Linked DNA regions of Homo sapiens. The protein of the gene in region 4 purifies or fractionates together with the protein of the main gene of each other region. This does not show direct contact. Each region holds a gene or a part of one and is shown on either strand. Other genes may lie near its edges. The genes, in order: PEDS1, INF2, TBC1D31, MYH11, ACTR3, C4BPA and SVIL.

The links.
Region 1: the proteins of MYH11 (region 4) and PEDS1 purify together in Homo sapiens (affinity purification with mass spectrometry, with the first as the bait; one large-scale study listed by BioGRID). This does not show direct contact.
Region 2: the proteins of MYH11 (region 4) and INF2 purify together in Homo sapiens (affinity purification with mass spectrometry; one large-scale study listed by BioGRID and IntAct). This does not show direct contact.
Region 3: the proteins of MYH11 (region 4) and TBC1D31 purify together in Homo sapiens (affinity purification with mass spectrometry, with the first as the bait; one large-scale study listed by BioGRID). This does not show direct contact.
Region 5: the proteins of MYH11 (region 4) and ACTR3 purify together in Homo sapiens (affinity purification with mass spectrometry; one large-scale study listed by BioGRID and IntAct). This does not show direct contact.
Region 6: the proteins of MYH11 (region 4) and C4BPA purify together in Homo sapiens (affinity purification with mass spectrometry; one large-scale study listed by BioGRID and IntAct). This does not show direct contact.
Region 7: the proteins of MYH11 (region 4) and SVIL purify together in Homo sapiens (affinity purification with mass spectrometry; one large-scale study listed by BioGRID and IntAct). This does not show direct contact.

The regions. Positions count from the first base shown.
Region 1 is NC_000020.11:50,136,724-50,140,223, forward strand, and holds part of PEDS1 (plasmanylethanolamine desaturase 1), read right to left. Parts: intron 1-3,500. UniProt on the Homo sapiens protein: Plasmanylethanolamine desaturase involved in plasmalogen biogenesis in the endoplasmic reticulum membrane.
Region 2 is NC_000014.9:104,699,618-104,703,117, reverse strand, and holds part of INF2 (inverted formin-2), read right to left. Parts: intron 1,762-3,500; 5' UTR 1,753-1,761; coding exon 1,362-1,752; intron 14-1,361; coding exon 1-13.
Region 3 is NC_000008.11:123,128,207-123,131,706, reverse strand, and holds part of TBC1D31 (TBC1 domain family member 31), read right to left. Parts: intron 3,462-3,500; coding exon of another isoform or gene 3,427-3,461; coding exon 3,194-3,426; intron 2,642-3,193; coding exon 2,489-2,641; intron 1,510-2,488; coding exon 1,374-1,509; intron 1-1,373. UniProt on the Homo sapiens protein: Molecular adapter which is involved in cilium biogenesis. Part of a functional complex including OFD1 a centriolar protein involved in cilium assembly.
Region 4 is NC_000016.10:15,847,029-15,850,528, reverse strand, and holds part of MYH11 (myosin-11), read left to right. Parts: intron 1-3,500. UniProt on the Homo sapiens protein: Muscle contraction.
Region 5 is NC_000002.12:113,956,089-113,959,588, reverse strand, and holds part of ACTR3 (actin-related protein 3), read right to left. Parts: intron 2,230-3,500; coding exon 2,134-2,229; 3' UTR 1-2,133. UniProt on the Homo sapiens protein: ATP-binding component of the Arp2/3 complex, a multiprotein complex that mediates actin polymerization upon stimulation by nucleation-promoting factor (NPF).
Region 6 is NC_000001.11:207,142,233-207,145,472, reverse strand, and holds the end of C4BPA (C4b-binding protein alpha chain precursor), read right to left. Parts: intron 1,656-3,240; coding exon 1,480-1,655; intron 930-1,479; coding exon 756-929; 3' UTR 501-755; downstream 1-500. UniProt on the Homo sapiens protein: Controls the classical pathway of complement activation. It binds as a cofactor to C3b/C4b inactivator (C3bINA), which then hydrolyzes the complement fragment C4b.
Region 7 is NC_000010.11:29,624,972-29,628,471, reverse strand, and holds part of SVIL (supervillin), read left to right. Parts: intron 1-3,500.

The DNA.
Region 1 (3,500 bases), on a different chromosome or scaffold from region 4:
AAAAAAAAAAAAAAAAAAAAGAGGGGAGGAAGGCTGGGCGCATTGGCTCACGCCTATAATCCCAGCACTTTGGGAGGCCACGGTGGGAGGATTGCTTGAGTCCTGGAGTTCAGTACCAGCCTGGGCAACACAGCGAAACCCTGTCTGTATATAAAATAACAAAATTCGCCAGGTGTGGTGGCATGTGCCTGTGGTCCTACTGGAGGCTGAAGTGGGAGGACTGCTTGAGCCTGGGAGGTTGAGGCTCCAGTGAGTCGTGATCGAGTCACTGCACTCCAGCCTGGGTGACAGAGGAAGACTTCATCTCAAAAAAAAAGGCGGGGTGGGGGGAGCAGAGTAACTTTTGTTTGTTGTTTTTTTGAGACAGACTCTCCCACTGTGGCCCAGACTGGAGTGTGGCGGTGCCATTCACAGCTCACTACAGCCTTGAGCTCCCATGCTCAAGCGACCCTCCCACCTCAGACTCGTGAGGAGCTGGGACTACAGCTGTAGAGACAAGGGTCTCACCATGTTGTCCAGGCTGACCAGTGAACTCCTGAGCTCAAGCGACCCACTCACAAATCCTAAAGTGCCTCCCAAAGTGCTGGGATGACAGGCGTGAGCCACCGCACCCAGCCGAGGGTAACTTAACTGTGGAGAACTCTGACATCTGCTACCTTAGTCATGGGATCAGAGTCATCACAGTGATAAGTCATGTTGACAGTCTGTACTTTTGCTATGATGTGATGAAAATGGCACTTCACCTCTGAACTCTTCCTCCTCATAACCCGTAACCCCAGTCTAATCATGAGAAAAACATCAGATAGATACCAACAGAGGGGCAGCCTACAACACACCTGACTAGCACTCCTCAAAACCGTCAAGGTCAGCCAGGCGCGGTGGCTCACTCCTATAATCCCAGCACTTTAGAAGGCCGAGGAGGGTGGATCACAAGGTCCGGAGATTGAGACCATCCTGGCCAACATGGTGAAATTCCATCTCTACTAAAAACGCAAAAATTAGCCGGGCGTGCTGGCGCGCGCTTGTAGTCCCAGCTACTCGGGAGGCTGAGGCAGAAGAATCGCTTGAACCTGGGAGGCGGAGGTTGCAGTGGGCCGAGATTGCGCCACTGCACTCCAGCCTGGCAAGAGTGAGACTCCGTCTCAAAAAACAAACAAACAAAAAAAACTGGACAAGAGGAGCCTAAAGGGACATGACAACTAAAGGCCATGTGATACCCTGGATGGGATCCAGGAACAGAAGAAGGACATTAGGGAAGAACTAAGGCAATCTGAATAAGCCATGGACTCCAGCTCATGATAATGTATCAACACTGGCACACACTGTAACAAATGTGCCCCGCTAATGTAAGATTTAGGATGTGAATAATGGAGGAAACTGCGTGCCCCAGGCATATGGGGACTCTCTGTACTATCTGCCCCATCCTTCTGTAAGTTGAAAACTTGTTCTAAAAAATAAAGTCTGTTTTTCAAAAAGTGGACAATCTCACTTCATGTCCACAGTAACAGGCCCCACCCCATCCTGACCTTCCAGAGGAGGGTAAGAACTCCCCAAGGTCACACGGTGGCAGGGGCAAGGCAGGGCTGCTGGTGAGTAGCCAGAGACTCGCTAGAGTCATTCAGGATGATGCAACCTTAGGGTTAGGGTTAGGGAGACTTCGCACCCAGGTATGGAGAATGGGGACATTTACCTCCCTTAACTATGAGAAGTTAATAAAATGGGCTGCTGGGTAAAGGGCCCGGTGGGTCCCACGACACAGCAAGCATCCCCCCAACGCAGCTCCTGTGAGCTCTCTGCTGAGCCTCAGTCTTGCCATCTGTCCAATGGTCAAGGCCTGGCGCCTGCACGCTGCCCAGCAGGGAGGGATGTCTGCTTTGGACAGAAGTCAGGAATCATCTTAGGAGACCAGGAGCCCTCCCCCTGGCTCCGTGATCTTGCGGCCTCTGCCGGTGGCAGTGACTCCAGGCTGCTGTCTGAGGCTGCTTTAATGGGGGCAGGGGTGGCAGACAGGCACACAGAAGCCTCTTTGTCCCAGCTTTGGGGTGGTGGCAGCTGGCAGCCGGCTCCCCCTGGGGGCAGCTTCGGCTTGGTTACCACCCTTCCCCGCAGAACACTGGGACAAGGAGAGGGATGGGAGACGGCTCACCCCAGGCTACCCTGACTCACGGGGGAACTTGAGGTAGTCGCTGGGCCCGTGCGGGCTTCCATTTCCCCAGAGGTCACCCAGCTGGGACTTCCTCACCCCTCCCTGCCCACCTCAAAGGCCTGGCGTGGAGATGGAAGGCGTGGCTGAGGAGCCAAGTGAATGCACTGAGGGCAAATCCATGGGTTTCGGTCCTGGGTCCCAGTCCTGTCTCTACCGCCTTCCAGCTCAGTCAGATCCAGACTCCACTTCCAGCCACAGGACGGGCCACGACCCGAGCCTGGGACTTCTCTGACCTCATCCCTGACCTCTGGACTCACTGTGCCCTCTGCCCGGAAGGCTTCTCCCAAGGTCCACGAAGGACTCTGCTCCTTTAAGGGCCAACTCACAACCCAAACACTTCCTCCCCCTTCTCCACGTGGAACAAAAGCTCAGGGCTCCTACGGCCTTCACTTGTTCACCCACTCACTCACGACAACGATGTGCGTGTCACAGTGGCTGATGACCTCCACGTGGCTAAATCCAAAGGTCCCTTTACTGGCCACCTTGCTGGTCCACTCGGTGGCTGTTCCCAGTCGACCCCCAAGACTCCTGGAAACACATTCTCCTCTTGGCCCCTGCAAGCCCTCCCTGGTTCTCCCCCGACCTCCCTGGTTCTCCCCCCATCTCCCTGGCAGCGCCATCCCAGCCTCCCTTGCTGGCTCTTCCTCCTCCCCAGCCTGGAAACACGGGAGACTCAGCCCCTGGGGGTGCTCAGCCAGCCTAGGAGATAAGGAGCTTCATCTTGACACAGATGACCCCCGGATTTCTTTCTTTTTTTTTTTTTTTTTCCAGAGGAAGTCTCACTCTGTCGCCCAGGCTAGAGTGCAATGGGGCGATCTTGGCTCACTGCAACCTCTGCCTCCCGTGTTCAATCAATTTCTCCTGTCTCAGCCTCCCCAGTAGCTGGGATTATAGGCGCCTACCACCATGCCCAGCTGATTTTTGTATTTTTAGTGGAGACAGGGTTTCACCGTCCCAAAGTGCTGGGATTACAGGTGTGAACCACCATGCCCGGCCGGACCCCCAGATTGCTATTTCCAGCTGCCTCTCCCTGCCTCCAGACCTAGATTTCCAGTTTCCTGCTCAACACCTCTCCTTAGCTCAACAGCGGCCATCTCAAGCATCTCCCTCAGGCCTGCTCTGCCGATGACCTCTCTCCATCTCTGTGAATGACAGCTTCATCCCTTCCATCTCTCAAGAGAGAAACCTTGGAGTCAAGCTAATTCTCTCTCACCTCCACAGCCAACCTGGAAGCACATTCTGGCAGCTCACCTTTCACAGCTCCTCCAGAATTTGACAACGCATCACCACCTCC
Region 2 (3,500 bases), on a different chromosome or scaffold from region 4:
GATGTGTCCAGGGCTGCCAGGGTGGAGTGGGCAGGCTCAGCAGGGCCAATGCACCCCTTCCCATGCCTGTGCAGCTGGGCTCAGGGCTGGGGCTCTGGGCCTGGCAGGCAGACGCCAGGGGGTGCCGGGCACTTGTCTGTGGCCCACAGCAGTGGGCTGGGACCCAACGAGGTGCCCCACTCCTCGGTGTCCTGGCCCTGCTCCTGGACCACAGGGCCAGACCCTGCAGGGAAGGGCTTGGAGGCAGCTGCCCCATCCTGTCACTGGCTCTGGGCCCAGCTTTTCTCCCAATGCAGCACTTACTGTGTTTATGGCAGACACAACCTCATTCCTATGAACCCCTGCCTCCCACCCCATCTGGAGCTGTGAAAGTTCTGGGGGTGTCTCTCATCTGACCCTGCTGAGAACAATTCACAAAAGACTCCATAGAGGGGCCCTGCCAGGCCCAGGCTGGGGAGACGGGCTGAGAATGGCTGGCCCCTACACCTGCCTCTGTCCCCTGGGTCCGACAGAAACGAGGCGCCTCTGGCTTGCTTGCCTGCACAGGTAACTGCCGCCCCCATGGGCCCAGCCCCGCCCATCACTGCCCACCCTAGCTCGTCCCCAAGCATCGGTAGGACCTGGCAGCAGCCATGGAGTGGCACAGCAAGGGTTTCTCTCAAGGGACCGGGACTAACTTTGGGCACAGCCTGGGGAGACTTCCTGGAGGACAGGAAAGTGAGCTGGGGCTTAAAGGCTTAGCGGCGCAGGACCTTGGAGGACGCAAAGGCAGAAAACACGAGCAGAGGCAGAGACCAAGGGCCTGCCTGCCTGCCGGGAACGAGTCCCCTGGGTGCTGGAGTAGGGGACAGGGCGGGGAGGGAGGCGCTAGGGAAGGCGCTGGGAGGTGGAGGGTGACACCATCAGTAGGTGTGGGCCAGACCTCAAGGGCTCTGTCTGGGCTGAGGCTGAAGGGCTTGGAGCTAGGCAGGTGTATGTAGGGAGCCACTCGGGTGGATTCGCATCTCTGACTCAGTGACTCCTGCCGCCGAGGTGTGGACGAGGGCAGAGAGCCCAGAGGGTGGGAGCCAGCACAGGACGGGGAGGAAGGGTGGGGCAGAGCCACACAACAGAGAGGGGCACAGGGGGACCGCTGGTGCAGCAGTGCGGGGACTGGGGTGACCTGGAAGCCTCAGACTCGGAGTGAATGTGGATGTTTTTCCTGAGCCCAGGAAGCCAGTCCTCCTCCAGGAAGCCCTCCTTGCCTGCCTGGCTGCGCTTCCTCCTGGTGGTTCCCCAGGCCTCCCGGGGCCTTTTGGGCCTGAAGCCTCATACCAGGTCCCCAGCGTCCGCCTGGGCGGCCCTCCCACACTGCGGCTCACCCTGGGAGAGCTGGCGCACGTAGCCCTGGTTGCTGAGGATGTACTCGATGCCCTGCCGCGAGTTCATGACGGCGCGCACGCAGCTGACGCAGGTGAGCTGCAGCAGGGCGTCGGAGATACGTGCAACGCCGCGGCCCGACAGCCGCGCCAGCGCCTCCAGCAGCAGGTCCAGGCCGCTCTGCTCCAGGAACTGCACCATCCAGCCGCCGTCGCTGCCCTCCAGGCGCTTGCGCAGGCCGGAGTAGTTGACCACAGAGGGCATCTGGAGCAGCCGGATGCACAGCTCGGGGTCCGCGCTCTCCAGGTTGGCCTCCGTGGGGTCCGAATCCTGTGGCCCCAGCTTCTCCTTCAGCGCTGCCCACTTGCGCTGTGCGCCCTCCTTCACCGACATCTTGCCGAGCTGCAGGCAGAGGGCAGGGAGCCGTCAGCGGGGAGGGGATGGGGGCTGTCCTCCTGGCCACCAGCGCAGGCGGGGCCACTTCCCTCGGTCTCAGTTTCTCTGCTGCAATTCCTGCTCACGTGCCATGCTGAGGGTTAGGGGTAGCACTGTGTCCCCCACTATATCTTAGGCTTCCCTGTACCCATCCCTGACCGAATTTCAGCAACCGAGGCGGCAGGCAGGAAGGGCCCTACTGCGCGCATGAGGACCCCGAGGCTCAGGGCTGGGAGGGGAGGAGCCGGCTCAGAAACCTGCAGCACGAGGCCAGCACGGCCCCTGCAGAGTGACGGGACCGGATGAGCTTGGGGAGGACTCGGGGGAGCGGGAGGCTCCCCTGGCTGGAACATTACCCACGGTAATGATGCGACAAAACGGCGCATCTGAGGCTGCCTTATCTCACCCCAGGGCACTTCCCCCGCCCCAGTGGACAATATGGACAGGGAGATTCCAAACCTCAGGCATGCCTGGGGTGCCCACAGCGTCAGCAGCGTGGCTGGGGAGGAGGGGCGACTCCCAGGTCTCCCCTGGGCCTCAGTCTGCCCGTCTGCATGTGGGTAGGGGGCCCACACCAACAGGAAGACGGAAACCCTTGGCACTCAGGGTTTTACCAGGATTCAGTCGCAACAGGTCTGACTCCAGCCCTGGGAACACCCGGGTAGGTAACAGGCCCAGCCCAGAAGAGCCCCAACACGTGCCTTTCCCCAAAACAGAACAGCAGGACAGGCGGGTTGCACCTCTGACATCAGCTCCACGCCACCACATCCCCCCAGCCGCTGTCCCCAACCACAGACCCTGGGAACTGGCCTCGAAGGTCAGGGGCATCCCAGGCCCTCCTGCAACCATGTATGGCTTAGATCTTATATTTAGCGTCTGAGAACAGCAGCGTGGAGCCTCGGGGAGGGAGCTAGGGGGCCGGGCCTGGCAGGGACACGCTCTGAGCCTCCACCCCGGCCCAGCACTCTCCACCCTGGCCCTCGGCTTCCCACCACCTCCAAGGCAGGCACTTTATACCTCCCACAACAGGTGGGGAACTGGAGGCGGCTGGGTCCTAGAGAAGCTGGGTCTGTGCCCACAGTCCCACACCTGGGCACGGCTGGGCTGTGACTGGAGGTCCCACATGGCTTTGCTTCAAGTGCTGCCCAACCCGGTAAGTCAGGGGACCCCAGGCTGAAGGGCATTTGAGGTCACGGGAGCTGAGCGGGGTCGAGCACCCAAGCGCCTGCCTCCCCAGGAGGCTCTATTCCTCCCCTCCTGCCTTGGGAGAGTGTCCTGGAGCACCTGCCCTTGAGGTCTCAGGCCCACTCCCCAGCCTGGTCCACGACCAAGCCTGGTGTTTCCGGCAGTCCAGCCCCTACTCCCCGCACCGCCCCTCAGCCCTCCACCTGTCCAACTGCCCCAGGGGGCCAGTGGGCTCCTTCCAGGAGGCAGCCTGACAGGTGTAAGCCAGGGTTCTGATCTGCATGTCCCCAGCCCGGGCCCTCACCAGCAGACCTTGGCCCAGTCACTCATCCTGCCTGGGCCTCAGTTTCTTCTTCTGCACCTCCAGCACCAGGCTGCCAGGAGCATCCTGAGAGGCTGTCCTTGGGATGCCCCTCCTCCCTGCAGGGGGTCCTGGTCTGGGCACTGTAGAACGGAGAGCCCGGAGCCCCCGGTGCACTGTGGTTTTAAGCCACCCTCCCAGGCCCGGCCCTCTTGGTCAC
Region 3 (3,500 bases), on a different chromosome or scaffold from region 4:
AAAGTATGTGTGCAAGTACTCAAAGACTTTTACAATGTAGCATGGTTTTGTAATTTGCAAAACACTGCAAATAACCGAAATGTCCAATAGCAAAGGATTAAATAAGCTATTAATTCAATGGAATATTATACAACCACAAAAAGAGAAATAGATACACATATAACAAATATGAAAAGATATTCAGCATATGAAATTTTAAAAAGCAGGTTACAAAAACAATGTATAATGAGAATAATCCCATTTTTGTATAAATATAGGAAAACATGACTATAATTACTCCTCTATCTATAGAACATACCTGAAAGTCTATGTAATTAACCTTTTTTTTTTTTTTTTTTTTTTTGAGACTGAGTCTCACTCTGTCGCTCAGGCTGGAGTGCAGTGGCATGATCTCGGCTCACTGCAGCATCCACCTCCCAGGGTCAAGCAATTCTCCTGCCTCAGCCTCCTGCGTAGCTGGGATTACAAGCGCCTGCCACCATGCCCAGCTAATTCTTGTATTTTTAGTAGAGACAGGGTTTCACCATGTTGGCCAGGCTGGTTCCGAACTCCTGACCTCAGGTGATCTGCCTGCCTCGGCCTCCCAAAGTGCTGGGATTACGGGCATGAGCCACCGCACCCAGCCAATTAACCATTTTTTAATAGTGTTTCTCTGGGGATGACATGAGAACTAATGGAGAAGGTCAATTTTTAATTCTGTATGTTTTGTACTGGAAATTATTTTTATACTGGCCACAGATAATTTTTATATGAAAAAAGAATATGTCCCCTAATTAAAAATTAACTGCCGGGCTTGGTGGCTCACGCCTGTAACCCCAGCACTTTGGGAGGCCAAGGTGGGCAGATCACCTGAGGTCACGAGTTTGAGATCAGCCTAGCCAACATGATGAAATCCCGTCTCTAAGAAAAATACAAAAATTAGCTGGGTGTGGTGGCGTGCACCTGTAATCCCAGCTACTTGGGAGGCTGAGGCAGGAGAATCACTTGAACCCGGGAGGCGGAGGTTGCACTGAGCTGAGGTCACGCCACTGCACTCCAGCCTGGGCAACAGAGCAAGACTCTGTCTCAAAAAAAAAAAAAAAAGAAAAGAAAAGAAAAAATAACTTAATGGCTAACTGATACTGATATTTCTAGTTTTAGAGAAATAGTCACCAAGGACACTTGACTAATTTTCCTGGCATTTCTTAAATATTTAGCCATTCATGAAATACAAAAGAGAATGAGAAAGCTGAGGGGAAAAGTAAATAAAATTAAAGCGGCTATTTAGTATTCATGGTGGACTCTAAGAATATTATTTAATTTGAAGGTGTTCATTACATTTAAGTGAGAGTAAATGGAGATGATGTATGAGAACTAAGTTAAGAATAATAAACCTTTCTCCCAATTTCATCATCCAGTCTTCTTAGTTCCATTTCCTGTTGATCTTGCTGAAGCTTCAGAAAACGCCTTCTTGCAGCATCTTGTAAGTGCATTTCCTTTACTTTCAGCTCTCTTTTCACAGCAGCTAGCCTTAAATACAAAATACATCAAGTGGAACAAATACAGCAATTCCTAATATGATTTAGTTTTTTCATAACAGGTCTGCCATGCTGATCATTTCAATACAATTGATATCCTTTATTTGAAAGAAGAATGCGAGAACTGCTCCACCGTTACCAAAGATGATGTATACTTATGCTTTAAGAATTTTAGTAGAAAGCTCACTGGCTCAGTTCAGTAATTCCTTTTAACCCACACTATAAATCTGTTACATAAAGTTCCATCTAAGAATAGGAATCAATAAACACAGAAGTGAGTTTCCCAACTATTGGGCTTAGTCTCAATGTTTATCCCATTACTTTACTTAATTTACACATTTTACCTTATTAACATACTTTTATGTATTTATTTTTAAGTTTTTTCTTTTTATTTTTTAAGAGACAGGGTCTCACTATGTTGCCCAGGCTGGCCTTGACCTCCTGGGCTCAAGTGATCCTACCTAGTAGCTGGGACTATAGGTATGTGGCACCACACCCAGCTAACGTACTTTTGAATACGCATTTAATACTCATTCCCCTGTCCTCCAAAGTGTTAAATGGGTAATGACATAATCATTCTATGTTACAACTGTCAGGTCACACAGGTATGTTTAAAACACAATTAAAAAAATTATACTCTACTAAAGGTGATGTACCTAGCATTCTATTACAAAGCATTTCTGCCCACTATAGAATAATGTTTCTAAATAATGTCCTTCAAGGAACATTAATCCATGCAAAGCTATATTATATTCAGCATAGCTTCAGAATTACATTTTACTACATAGCAATTTTTTTTGAAAAGTGGTATATAAAGATTCTTTTTATTAACTTAATAGTTGCTTTATAGAAATGCTACAGCTGGGTAATCCTATATATAATGTTGTTTCTAAAATGAAAAAATGAAAGAACATAAAAATTATTCAACTAACTTATATGTCCAGATTTTTTTTTAAAGTGATAACACATACCTCTGTCTTTGTTGTATCATTTTCTCCTCCTCTTGTAAGAGCATTTCTCTTCTTGTTTCTTCAGCTTTACGAAGCAGCTCCTGTTTCTGGTACCAAGCTTCATCTTCAACTCTTTGCTGGTCGACTTTAGCTTGCATATCTTCAACTGTCTGCCTTAAGTAGGTAATATTATTATGAAAACACAAAGAAGAAAGCTAAGAATCATCAAAACACAAAATGTATACCGATTAATGTATAATCTATTTTATTTCCATATGCAAGAATTAACTATCTTTAATATTTCTAGCCTTCAAACTCTGATTTTACACAAATACTCATAATTTAAATGCATTTTTTTTTTTTTGAGATGAAGTCTCACTCTGTCGCCCAGGCTGGAGTGCAATGGCATGATCTCCGCTCACTGCAACCTCCTCCTCCTGGGTTCAAGTGATTCTCCTGCCTCAGCTTCCTGAGTAGCTGGGACTACAGGGGCGTGCCACCATGCCTGGCTAATTTTTTGTATCTTTAGTAGAGACGGGGTTTCACCATGTTGGCCAGGCTGGTCTCGAACTCCTGACCTTGTGATCTACCTGCCTTGGCCTCCCAAAGTGCTGGGACTATAGGCGTGAGCCACCGCGCTCAGCCAAATGTATTTTTCATTAAAACTTTCTTATGTTTATAACATATTTCATTGTATCAGAAAAAGAAAAACTATTCCATAATTACCTCTCTCTTAAGTAATCCAATTCATCATTCCTTATTCTTTCTCGTTCCTGTGTTTGATAGTCCACAATAAACTTTGGATATTGATTAAATACTGGATACTGCCCTTTTGTCAGTGCAACAAAAACATTAAGCATGCTGTCTGGATGAATGTCAGTAGGCGTGGTCTCCATGAGATGATAAACTTGTCTAATCACAACATTTATATCCAGGTTATTCCGATGGTGAAAAAAAAACTGTAAGAAAACTTGGTGTTTAAATCGAGATTTACCTGACAAAGCAATTATGAGGTAGAATTAAAACAAGAATT
Region 4 (3,500 bases):
GTTTTTGTCTCTGGTCCAAAATCTTTAGCCAATGGCTTGGCAGTAAAATCCTGAGGGAAGCTGTTGACCAGGTGAGGTGATGTGCAAATCCTATACTCTCTGGGCTCTGGGATATTTAATTTACTATTTATTTATTTATTTTCAAGACAGAGTTTTGCTCTTGTCGCCCAGGCTGGAGTGCAGTGATGGGATCTCAGCTCACTGCACCCTCCACCTCCTGGGTTCAAGCGATTCTCCTTCCTCAGCCTCCTGAGTAGCTGGTATTACAGGCGCCCACCACCACACCTGGCTATTTTTTGTATTTTTAGTAGAGACGGGGTTTCACCATGTTGGCCAGGCTGGTCTTGAACTACTGACCTCAGGTTATCCGCCTGCCTCGGCCTCCCGAAGTACTGGGATTACAGGCATCAGCCACCATGCCCGGCCTAATTTACTTTTTATTAATGCTGAAGCAGAGAGGGCAAGATCTTTTGCCCCTGAGTTCTTCTGGGAAAAATGAAACTGATGGTAAAACAAACTAAAGCAACCTGACATTCTCAGTTGGTCCAGTTTCAGCCCTTTGACTGGGAGTCACAGACGGGTCCCATAAAATGGTAGAGCTGGGCCAGCCTACCATTGATTTATTTTCCCTAAATGAAAAATACAAGGCCCAGAGAGGGCAAGTGACTTGTCCAGAGTCACCCAGCAGGTTTGGGGCAAAGCTGAGACTCGTTACTTGACATCCTAAGGTCTTCCAGAGGCTAATGATTAGCTTGTTTGTGCTCAAAAAATGAAGCAGCCTGGGCGCGGTGGCTCATGCTTGTAATCCTAGCACTTTGGGAGGCTGAGGCAGGCAGATCGCTTGAGCTCAGGAGTTTGAGACCAGCCTGGGCCACAAAGTGAGACCCCTGTCTCTACAAAAAAATGCAAGAATTAAAAAATTAGCTGGGTGTTCTGGTGCGTGCCTGTGATCCCAGCTACTTGGGAGGCTGAGGTGGGAGAATGGCTTGAGCCTGGGAGGCAGAGTTTGCAGAAAGCAGAGATCGCGCCACTTCACTCTAGCCTGGGCAACAGAGCCAGACCCTGTCTCAAAAAAAAAGAATGAAGCAGTTGTTGGTCAGGACAGGACTGTAAACAAGGCTGACACACTCAGATGTGTCAAACATCGCTAATGCCAAAGGTGACAGAGTCATTTGTTTTCATCCAAACATTCGAGAAAGTTGGACGAGGTGACTCACGCCTGTCATCCTAGAGCTTTGGGAAGCCAAGGCAGGAGGATCATTTGAGATCAGGAGTTTGAGACCAGCCTAGGCAAAATAGCAAGACCCCCATCTCTACAAAAAATAAGCCGGGCATAGTGGCCCACACCTGAGGTGGGAGGATCCCTTGAGCCCATGAGTTTGAGCCTGCAGTAAGCTATGATTGCACCACTGCACTCCACCCTGGGCATATAGTGAGACCCTTCCCCCAACCAAAAACATTGAGAGCAGCTCTTGATGAGTGAACTGTACTTCGTGGTCAGCAGTTCTGGGTAGTAATTTCAGAGATGTCCTTTCAGCCCTTGGAGCTGATGCAGGACCTTAAACATGAGCGATGGTGGAGGAGGGAGGGTTGGGAAGGTGCATCAAGGTAGATGAAGAGTGTCCCTGGGGTTGGGCCAACTGGCGGTCCGTCTCTGGTCCAGTGTGTTCACCTTGCCCCCGTCTGATCTTCTGCAGTTGGTATTCCGAGTTGAGTTTGACTAAGTGAGAGCTGCTCTCAGCTTTAACTGCCTTTCCCAAGACAGCCCTTGTTTTTATTCTAAAGCTGTGGTTCTCAACTGGAAGCAGTTTTGCCACCCCAGGGGACATCTAGCAGTGTCTGGAGACATTTTTGATTGTCATGAGTGGAGGAAGGGGTGCTACTGGCATCAGGTGGGCAGAGACCAGGGATGCTGCGGAACATCCCACAATGCACGGAAGAGCTCCCCTCACGACACAGAATGACGCAGCCCAAGAGTCACAGTGCAGAGTTTGTGGCCAGCTGCGGTGGCTCACGCCTGTAATCCCAGCACTTTGGGGGGCCAAGGTGGGAGGATTGCTTGAGGCCTGGAGTTCAAGACCAGCCTGGCCAATATGGTGAAACCTCATCTCTACTAAAAATACAAAAATTAGCCAGGCATGGTAGCGCATGCCTGTAGTCCCAGCTACTTGGGAGGCTGAGGCACGAGAATCACTTGAACCCAGAAACGTGGAGGTTGCAGTGAGCTGAGATTGCGTCACTGCACTCCAGCCTGGGTAACAGAGCGAGACTCTGTGTCAAAAAAAAAAAAAAAAAAAAAAGACTTAGCAACTATTATTACTAGTATTAGTATTATTAATTTGTCAGGCTCACTGAATTTTCTCAAAAATTTGGCAAATTTTTAGGAAAACATTCTCAAAACATTTGGCAAATCTGTGGCTAAATGTTGTTTTGGGGACCCAAGGCTCGTAGGAGCAAAACAGCTTTCAGGTTTCCGGATCTGCCAGAGACTCAAGTGTCCTGTTGTGTGTTTTGTGTCTCAATGAGGGAAAGGGGAATATGTAGCACCTTCCAGATGGATTTGACCTTGACTGCGCCACTGTTTGAAGAGCTTCTCAACCTCCGCAGCTCCACCCCAGCCCAGATATTTCAGGGAATTAGGGTTCCAAGGGGCATGCTATGGAAAACACCATTCTAGCATGAGTCGAAGCTTCTCATCCCCCATCTTGCTGTCTTTTGACCAAAGCAGATTTTGCACGTCGTAACTGTCAGAGACATCAAAGCCAGAGGGAATCCAGCCTGCTCCAAGCTCTCCTTTTTTGTACAGAGACTGAATCTTTGCACTTGATCTTGTTTGTGTTTTTAAGTCTGAGGTTAGACAGGGTCCCAGGCAATGGAGGCGTGCGTGTCCTTTTATTTTTCTGTTGTAGCTTTTGCTATTTTTTCTGACTTTTAAGGCAACTCATCCACATGGCAATTAGGAAGAGCCCACTTAGGGCTGGGCACAGCGGCTCATGCCTGTAATCCCAGCACTTTGGGAGACCGAGGCAGGCAGATCACTTGAGGTCAGGAGTTCAAGACCTCAGCCTGGACAACATGGTGAAACCCCGTCTCTACAAAGAATACAGGAAAATAGCTGGGCATGGTGGCAGGTGCCTGTGGTCCCAACTATTTGGGAGGCTGGGGTGGGAGGATCACTTGAGCCTGGGAGGCGGAGGTTGCCGTGAGCTGAGGTCATGCCACTGCACTCCAGCCTGGGCGACAGAGCAAGACCCTGTCTCAGAAAAAAAAAAAAAAAAAAAAGAAGTCCACTTTACTTGTCATAGTGCTTAGAACAAATGAAACACTCTCCTAGCCCTCTTGGGATGTAATTGGCTACCATCTGCACAAACTCTTCATTATTGCACAAGAATATCAATATACTTAATGCTACTGAACTGTGTTTAAGTGGCCGAGGTGGTGAATGTTAGCTGTATTTTACCACAATTAAAGATAAGAGGGAAGGAAAATGAAGTGTACTT
Region 5 (3,500 bases), on a different chromosome or scaffold from region 4:
GAAGGGCTGGAGTTTTGTTTCCCCAAATAAGTTAAGCGTAAGCTTCAAGAAAGTTTTTGATCTTCATGTTTTTGTAGCAAACAGTTAAGAACATCTCTGTATAAATATGCCTGAGATTGTCATCAAATAGCTTTATAAACATGTCTTTCTAGCTTATTCACTTAACTACCCAACCATCGCCGGTGGAAAAGACATATTTATGACAATGCTAACAATATTTTATTGGGCCAGGAGCATGACATCTTTACTGCTTATCAATATAGTTCTTTATCAAAAGATCTTTAATAAAAGCAAAGTGCAGAACAGTATATACAGTAAGTTCCTATTTGTGTAAAATAAGAAAGCTACATTTATTTCTACCTACACAGAAAATTACAATACAAGGACATCTAAGACATTCCAAGTAGTCTGTGTAATGATGGAAAAATGAGACAGGCTAGGGAAAAAAACTTACTTTTGCTAATCTACTCTTTGGTACTGTTTGAATAGTATTTTTATAATGTTTGTGAATTACTTTTCCAAGTAAAAAAAGGAGACCTTTGATACTGATGATGATACTACTGTAGGATATAGTTTGTCTTTTACAATCCCATACTCAAAGAATGAAGATTCACAAAAATTATTATAGGATTTTAAATATTCAGATCCACTCTAAACAAAAACTGAAGTTTACTCCCCAATTCTATCTTTAGAGTAAAAACAAAAAACTAAACACTTTATATTCTTTCACTTTTGAATAGACGTATTCCAATCCTAACGTGTTATTTTCATGAATAATGGAGTTCAAGTGTTCACTGATACTGCTAGTAAAAAGCCTATAAAACATTTCCCATTTTCTCTTTCTATAAATAACTGGTAAAATTTTAAGGTCACAAGAAATTTTCTACCATACACATTACAGAGATTTCAATAACTCCCAAATCTCAACAGAAACAGATATCACATACATAAAAACAAAATAGAATTACATTACTTAAAAAAAAAAAACATTAGAAAAGGTAATTCAGTTTTAATTTATTTTCATCACTTTTTCTTCATAATCCAGATATTTTAAAATGCAAAGAAAATTAACTTTCAATGATATGTTCAGGGACTGGCACTAAAAAAAATTTTCAGACTGCAAATGAGTTATACAAATGAAAATATCAAATGGAGATCCAGTTATCAAAATGAAAGCACTCAACATATTAAAAGTTCACAAGTATTTGTATTGAGCACATTACAAAAGTCAGCTTGCTAACTGTTGTGATTTTAAAGAACTATTGCAGAAGTCTGAAGAAAATAGATTTATTAGTTAACTTATAAAGAGATTAAAGAGGCTGAAACAAGTATTAAAAAGAAATTTGTGCCTTTATTAGAATGTTAGGCTTTAAATATGCCAATTTTGATAAATTATTGTTGTTGTTTTGTTTTTTATAAGAAATGACACTACAGAACTGCAATACTGGTCCAACACTCTTGTCTTTACTCTTCTTTTAAAGCAAGAAACAGAATGCGAGTAATCAGAAAGCACTAGCAGGCATCAGTTAATCCAAGATACTAGCTCTTAGTTCCAAAAGCACTTGCAAAGAAAACCTTTTGGGGGGAAGGGGTGGAGAGGGATGGAAGCACTCCATAATAACTGGAATCCCACGAGTGTGTATGCCAAGTCTCATGAGGCTATTTTTTGAATTTATCCTTTACTTGGTCATGGTTTTTTCCCTCAAATACAATTTTTCTTTGACTTTTTTTCCTCAAAGTATAAAAAGTATGAAATATAAACAAGCTCTTGCACTGCACACTTAGAAGTGTACAATTCAAGCATTATAGAGCTATCTACACACTGATAAATCCCATCGAATCTTGGATAATTCATTAATATACAAAATATCAGGGCACAGAAAGAACTAAAACCCACTTCTTTTTGTTACACATAAGATTCAAATATTCAATCTAAAGAAAAACACAATCACTTTCGCTCTCTTCTACATCTGCATGGTGATACACTTATTAAAATATTCCTGTATAATCATGTTTGGTGTTACTATTTCAAGTCAGGTTTAAAACCTCAAAACCAGCCATCCAGACAAAACAGGTAATCAGAAAGATTATCTCTTCCCCACCTCCCTAACCCCAATAACTATGAAGCCAATTTTACGACATGACTCCAAACACTGGATTGTGACGACAAATGCTAGGTCCAATTTCTTCATAATCCTTTTTGGTGTGGCATACTTGGTAGAACTCAGGCTGAAAACAAAAAATATGTATTTTTATAAGGGTCAAAAATCTACCATCTTGAAGGTATATTGAAATAAACTTTAAGAGTGATGCTTTAAAATAGATGTTAAGTCTAAAATGTTTATTATTAGTCCATTCATGGCATGAAAGCTTAGAAATTCTAGCAGCCATGACTTAAAATCAGCTATAAATCTTTATCGGAACTCCAAAAGAGCAATTAACTCCTGTCCCCAATCCTTGTCTCACACACCTGCTGCGAGGATTCTGAAATTTTGAAAAATGGAAGGTTCTCAAATGTCCAGTCTGTTCTGTTGAGACTTTCCCATACTTTCATTGCACCAATAATGTAAAGAAGCGGCATTCGCCTAACTACAGATAAAACTACTCCTAGTCATGCTATGACTATTTTTCGTCTAGTTCTAAGAAATGTCTAGATCATTTGCCTTCCTCATTCAAGGTCTGGAAAAGATAGACTGTTCCATGCTGTGTTACCTCATTTCTCAAGGCAAAGTCACAAACTCAACTAGGTTATATGGCCCAATTGAAGAAGACTAAAATTGAGGAAAAAAATAACTTTCACCTCTTATGTTGGAAATGGTTTTAAATCCAAAGTTGTACAGTTATTCAATAATTCAGATAAAAGCTCCTTCATTTTAATATTGCATGCACTACCAGAACAAAGCACCAATACTTCCTAGGTTAATGGTATTAGAACACTAGAACACCTTTTTAGGGGGCTTTAAAGACATTTTAATTTGGGGACAGGATTCTTAGAATAATTCCCTTTATTCAGTGTAAAACATCATACTTTCTATGCAATGAAGCTTAACTTTTACCTTAATGTTTTTAAATACTTAAACAGAACAAACAAGGACCTTCTGATGACTAAATTACCAGTTTTAACAGAACTTTCCCTACAGATAAACTTTAAAACATAGTATAAAATGGTCACTCTAAAATAATGTCTAGCAAGCTAAAAAAAAAAAAAAAATTAAATTCAAATGACTTCCAATTAAATTTAAATTACTTCCAATTTTTAAAATACTACAAACACATATATACAAAGTTTCCTATTATTTTGAGATACAATTTAAAGGAATTTGCTTTGTTCTTCTCCAAGTATTGATGGACTCTTCTATCTTAAATATATATATATAAATTTAAACATAAGCTTCAGCCAGGCGCAGCAGCTCACACCTGTAAACTCAGCGCTCTTTGGGAGGCTGAGGTGGAAGGATCACTTGAGCCCAAGAGTTTGAGACCAGCCTGGCCCAACATAG
Region 6 (3,240 bases), on a different chromosome or scaffold from region 4:
GAGGACATGAGTGCTGTGCACACATGAAACTGTGGAGTAAAGGCAGTCTGTCCACGATAAGAACCCAAGTATGGCCAGGCATGGTGGCTCACACCGGTAATCCCAGCACTTTGGGAGGCCAAGGTGGGCAGATCACTTGAGGTCAGGAGTTCGAGACCAACCTGGCCAAAGTGGTGAAACCCCGTCTCTACTAAAAATACAAAAATTAGCTGGGCATGATGGCACACACCTGTAATCCCAGCTACTCAGGAGGCTAAGGCAGGAGAATTGTGTGAACCTGGGAGGTGGAGGTTGCAGTGAGCCAAGATTGTGCCACTGCAGTCCAACCTGGGCAACGGAGTGAGAGTCTGTCTCAAAAAAAAAAAAAAAAAAAAGAAAACCCAAGTACCTATTATTTGTGGCCCAAACAGTAAAACAAATGTATTAATGTATTAACTTTATATTATGGGTTTTTTAAGGACGCTTATTTCACAGAGTCCTAAATGACCACAAAGACAAAATAGTTTTTTATACATACATTTTTAATCGAAAAAAAATTTGTGCTTTGTGTGTTGAAAAGCAAAAACATGAGCCACACAGAGGATGATTAATAATTTCACAATCTCAAAGCACTAAACTTTAGCAAATTATCATTTCTAGATATTTATTATGATGAATATCACTGCCAAATTGACAGTAGATTTGCTAAACTGATCTGTATTGAATTGCAAGAGGCAAGCCAGCAAGACACCTTTTCCTCCTTCTTTTGAGAAAAATTATAGTTCTTTATCCAAAGTGGATTGTCTTGCGCTGTCTCTCTGTAGTTCCAGTTGTTCAATTTCCAGAGACAGCTTATATACCTCCAGGGCCATTTTCACATCCTCTGGGTTTGGGAGACACTGCATGAGTCTTTTGCCTGTGAGCACTTGTTCACAGCCTTCGGGGGTCTCCTAAAAGATATAAGTGGTGGGTGTGATTGAGAAGCTTCTCTTCTAATCATAAAGGAGGGTGGATCCTGACAGTGGAAGGACTACAGGATTGAACCAAGACCAACCTCAGACTGGTGGTTGAGGCTGGGAAAACAAGAAATCACTTGGGTCCCACCACAGTCTTCCCCAGGGGAACATGGATCTGTTCTGAGACAGCTGTCCAGAAGGCCCCCATGGTAACAGAGGCTGTTTTTGCTGACCATCCAGAAATGGAACAACAATATATTATATAGCTTAGCAAAAGTTAGGCTAGAAATCAGTACTACTGGGTCTATGAAACCCTGCTCTGTAAGGGCTCAGTTTTTCCTGTTCTCAAGTGAGAACAGGAGAACTTGCCACCCCTAACTTACCAGAATGCTTCAAGACAAAAAGAGTTTCTTTGAGTGGGAGTGGCTCAGAAATGAATCCTGACAAGTCAGATTTCACCATTGTTGAGTGGTACAGAGCTCTGGGGGATGCCACCATTTTTAGGGGTCGACAGCACAGAACTTCCTTGAATTGTGCCACTTACCCACTCACACTTGGGCACCTCTGGGTACCAGGTTCTGTTCCCAGAGCAAGTGATACTTTGGGGACCAACCACACCATAGCCAGAATCACATTGGATGGTGACATTTTCAGGCTCAACATACTGATCCTTATCCACAGACAACCTTCCATTCACTAATTCTGGTTTCCGACACAGAGCTGTAATGGAAACATATTTTTAAGAAATCTGTAAATCTATGAAGAAGGACATGATAACAGTCTCGGATAATAAGAATGAACTGTATTTAGTTCTGCTAATTGTTCTATCTTTCTCTTCATTTGAAAACATTCATATTAGCATTTTATTGAGTATGACTACCTATCAGACTTCTGCTAGGCACTTTATGTTGCTATCATTTAAGTCTCCTGGCAGCCCTATGAAATGAGCACTGTTATTATTCCCATTTTATCTAAGAGACAGCTGAGATACATTAAGACACTTGCTCAAAGTAATAACATTTTCATATAATATGACAACATATTTCTTTTTTTATTATACTTTAAGTTCTGGGATACATGTGCAGAATCTACAGGTTTGTTACATAGGTATGCATGTGCCATGGTGGTTTACTGCACCCATCAACCCATCATCTACATTAGGTATTTCTCCTAATGCTATCCCTCCCCTTGCCCCCCACCCCCTGACAGGCCCCAGTGTGTGATGTTCCCCTCCCTGTGTCCATGTGTTCTCATTTTTCAGCTCCCACCTATGAGTGAGAACATGTGGTGTTTGGTTTTCTGTTCCTGCATTAGTTTGCTGAGAATAATGGTTTCCAGCTTCATCCATGTCCCTGAAAAGGACATGAACTCATTCTTTTTTATGGCTGCACAGTATTCCATGGTGTATATGTGCCACATTTTCTTTATCCAGTCTATCATTGATGGGCATTTGGGTTGGTCTCAAGTCTTTGCTACTGTGAATAGTGCTGCAATAAACATACATGTGCATGTGTCTTTATAGTAGAATGATTTATAATCCTTTGCATATATACCCAGTAATGGGATTGCTGGGTCAAATCGTATTTTAGTTCTAGATCCTTGAGGAATCGCCACACTGTCTTCCACAATGGTTGAACTAATTTACACTCCCACCAACAGTGTAAAAGTGTTCCTATTTCTCCACATCCTCTCCAGCATGTTGTTTCCATGACAGGATATTTCTAAAAGAAGGTATGTGACCCCAGAATCCCAACTAACGAGGTAACTGTCACTCACAGTTTTGATTGCTGCAAGATTCTAAGTATAAAAATTTCCTTCTTGCAGACATTTATGCAGCCAACAGACCTATGAAAAAATACTCATCATCACTGGTCATTAGAGAAATGCAAATCAAAACCACAATGAGATAACATCTCACACCAGTTAGGATGGTGATCATTAAAAAGTCAGGAAACAACAGATGCTGGAGAGGTTGTGGAAAAATAGGAATGCTTTTACACTGTTGGTGGAGTGTAAATTAGTTCAACCATTGTGGAAAACAGTGTGGCAATTTCTCAAGGATCTAGAACTAGAATTACCATTTGACCCAGCAATCCCATTACTGGGCATATACCCAAAGGATTATAAATCATTCTATGATAAAGACACATGCACACGTATGTTTATTGCAGCACTATTCACAATAGCAAAGACTTGGAACCAACCCAAATGTCCATCAATGATAGACTGGATTAAGAAACTGTGGCACATATACACCATGGAATACTATGCAGCCACAAAAAAGAATGAGTTCATGTCCTTTGCA
Region 7 (3,500 bases), on a different chromosome or scaffold from region 4:
AGATACAGTCATTGAATAGAAAAACCATATTGATATTTTTAGGTTTTTAAGATCTCACATACTTTAAATATTTCAAAATTTTAAGTAAATACTCTTTCATACATTCTGAAACATTATATCTAATTTATCTCAGCCAAAAATTTAAGACATATACATGTTGCAGTTGCACACCTGTTACTCCAAAACAAACAAACCGCTCCAGCCAAAACCCAAATGGGAAAGCACTTGATTTTCAGTAGCTTAAAATATGTTGAATTAAGAGGTAGGTTATGAAAGTGAAAATGACATCTGAATGTTTTAGTGGTTTTGGATATAAATTTTCTTAGGAATTTTTTGTTTGAGTTAAGCTGATAGTTTAGTTTACTGTGTGCTATGTTGGTTGCAAAATTCAGCTACATTTGTTTATTTTGCAATTAATTCAATTTGTTTGCAAATATTGCATCAGACATCTAAACCAGCTAATAACTCTATAGGTTTGAGCCAGGTTAGAAAAAAAGGCTTGGCTGTACCGTTAAGAAGCAGCTAGCTCTCTAAATTGTGCTGATAGTCTTAATTTCCCCCGGATGTTCATTTTAGCCACACACACATAACCATTTGGATTTATGATTTCATACATTTTTTATTGGAAGTGCTGAATATTTTAAAATTCTGTGATTAGATAAAATTGGTCATTGTGCTTCAGAATAGGGTGACTCAGCTTCATGGGATGTACTTTACCCAACACAGGATTCTCCCATTTGAGATGGAATTTATTAATTTGGATTTGTATCAGGTCTTCACTCCAGAGGCATCAGAGAGCTTTCAGGCAGCCAACTATTCTTAAATATTTCAAAAGGAAGTTGCAGTGGGCACGTGGCGTGGAGAACACAGCAGAGCAAAGTGATGTAGGGGCCATAACAGCCAACATGCTTTGTTTCCTTCATTCATTCACCTACCTCCCCAAAAGTCCAAAGAAGTGTTTTCCCTGCTCTCGGTGCAGGAGGAAGATTTTATCTGGAAATTGAAGGTGTCAATGGCCAGAGAAAGAAGGAGGAACATTGATTTTCATGAATAACCAGCTGTGTGACCTTGGGTAAATTCTTAACCTCTCTGAGCCTCAGTGGCCTCATTCATTCAAACAAGGGTTGGACTAGAGGATTTTTAAGACCCCTTTTACGTATTGGGATTCTGTAATCCAAAGGTTTCAGAGATCGAGAATAATCTGTCTTCCTTGGAAAGGCAACACCTTGTATCTGGAAGGTAGTAGTTCAAGGTGGGAGAGCAGGAACAAATTAGAAATGTGTTGAGAAAGAAGATCTTTTTTAAAAAGTCCTCTCACTGTCCTTGCTTGTTTCTGTTGAAATACACAGACTGTTTCTCCCTTCTCTGATGGCTTCATAATCATTCTTTGTCTTTGATTCTTATTATTTATTTTATTTTATTTTATTTTATTTTCATTTTATTTTTTTGAGATGGAGTCTCGCTCAGTCTCCCAGGCTGGAGCTCAGTGGCGCAATCTCGGCTCACTGCAAGCTCCGCCTCCCGGGTTCACACCATTCTCCTGCCTCAGCCTCCTGACTAGCTGGAACTACAGGCGCCCGCCACCACGCCCAGCTAACTTTTTGTATTTTTAGTAGAGACGGGGTTTCACCGTATTAGCCAGGATGGTCTTGATCTCCTGACCTCGTGATCCACCCGCCTCCGCTTCCCAACGTGCTAGGATTACAGGCCTGAGCCACCGCGCCCAGCCTGATTCTTTATTTTGGAAAGTTTCTGACACCTCTTTAAATTAAGCTCTCATAGTTTCTTTTGTGTTCATTTAAGTATGTCTATTTTCTTTTCTCTAACCTAATTTATTTTTATCTTCTTTTGGACATTTGTTTTTTCTCCTGATGTGAAACCCCAAAGTGGTCACAGCAGACTCGCTCAGGGATGCCTGAGACCGTCAGAATCTTCGTGTTCACAACAAGATGGGATGTGCTTGGCTTTCGTTTCCCTTTGAGTTTATTAGTTCACTGCCAGGTATTCATTTATTCTCAACAGTTGTTTTCTGAGCACTTACTGTGTGTCAGGGACTGGTATAGGTGTTGGGGAAAGAGCGGTGGGAAACAAAATTCCTGCCCTCGTAGCGTTTAAGTTCCAATGGAATGGTACTAAAGTACCCTGAGCGATTCTCTTGATCTTCAGCCCTACATCTGTTGTTCAAGTGCTTAGGTTAATAACAAAATGTAAAATACCTACCATGGTTTCACATAGTTATGTGTGTCTGATGTAGGGGCCATAACCGTGTGTGTGTGCCTTGAGAAAACTTAAGATCTACTTCTTGGCAAATTTTAAATATATAATACATTGTTAGCAACTATAGTCACCATGCTATACCTTAGGTTTCCAGAACTTACTCGTAACTACAAGTTTGCATCCTTTGACCAATGTCTTTCCAATTTCTCCTACCTCCAGCCCCTGGTTACCACCTTTCCATTTTGTTTCTGTGAGTTCAGCTTTTATATCAAAACATCATGCTGCACACCTTGAGTATATACAATTTGCATTTGTGAATTATACCTCAAAGCTGAAAAAAGACCCCAAAAAACCCGGCATGGTTCCTAACCAAAGGAGACACTTGTAAGGCTTTGTATCCTCCTACAGTTTGCATTTTGTATCTTCTGAAATTCTCTCTTCCCCTAGAATTCATACTGATAAAGCTTATACGCATTTCAAAATATATGTTTGAGGCTGGGCGTGGTGGCTCATGCCTGTAGTCCCAGCACTTTGGGAGGCCAAGGCGGGTGGATCACGAGATCAGGAGATCGAGACCATCCTGGATAACATGGTGAAACCTCGTCTCTACTAAAAATACAAAAAATTATCGGGCATGGTGGTGGGCACCTGTAGTCCCAGCTACTCGGGAGGCTGAGGCAGGAGAATGGCGTGAACCCAGGAGGCAGAGCTTGCAGTGAGCAGAGATCGCGCCGCTGCACTCCAGCCTGGGCAACAGAGTGAGACTCCGTCTCAAAAAAAAGGAAAAAAAATATATATATATGTATACTTGAGGCAAGTACAAGTCAAGTACCCATCTCTCTCTATTTTTAAAATTCATGCTTTCTCTGCTATCATAACATTCGGTCTATAAAACGTTGATTTCATTACCAAGGCAAAGGTTGATGTTGATATCAAGCAGGATGTTACAGAAATAAATCATTGGATCCACTTTACTTCTTTCTTACTTTCAGACTTTGTCTCAGAACTTTATTAAACTTAGCAAAAGTTAAAAAGAAAGGTAGTCTTAACTGAAGACTTTGAGATGATTTTAGAAGGAGTTTAGTAACATTGGATGAACTATTGTGTGTCACTAATCATGTCAGAGAATGTAACTTACAACTGAAACTTTGGAGTCTGTAATCTTTCTGTGTGTTTTTTTTTTCTTTTTAAGACGATTCACCTGGTCACTTCTATCACTGGGTGAAGCTGATTGTATATAAGCTAGATCTGCCTTCTGCCTACCTTTATGTTAGTACTATTTT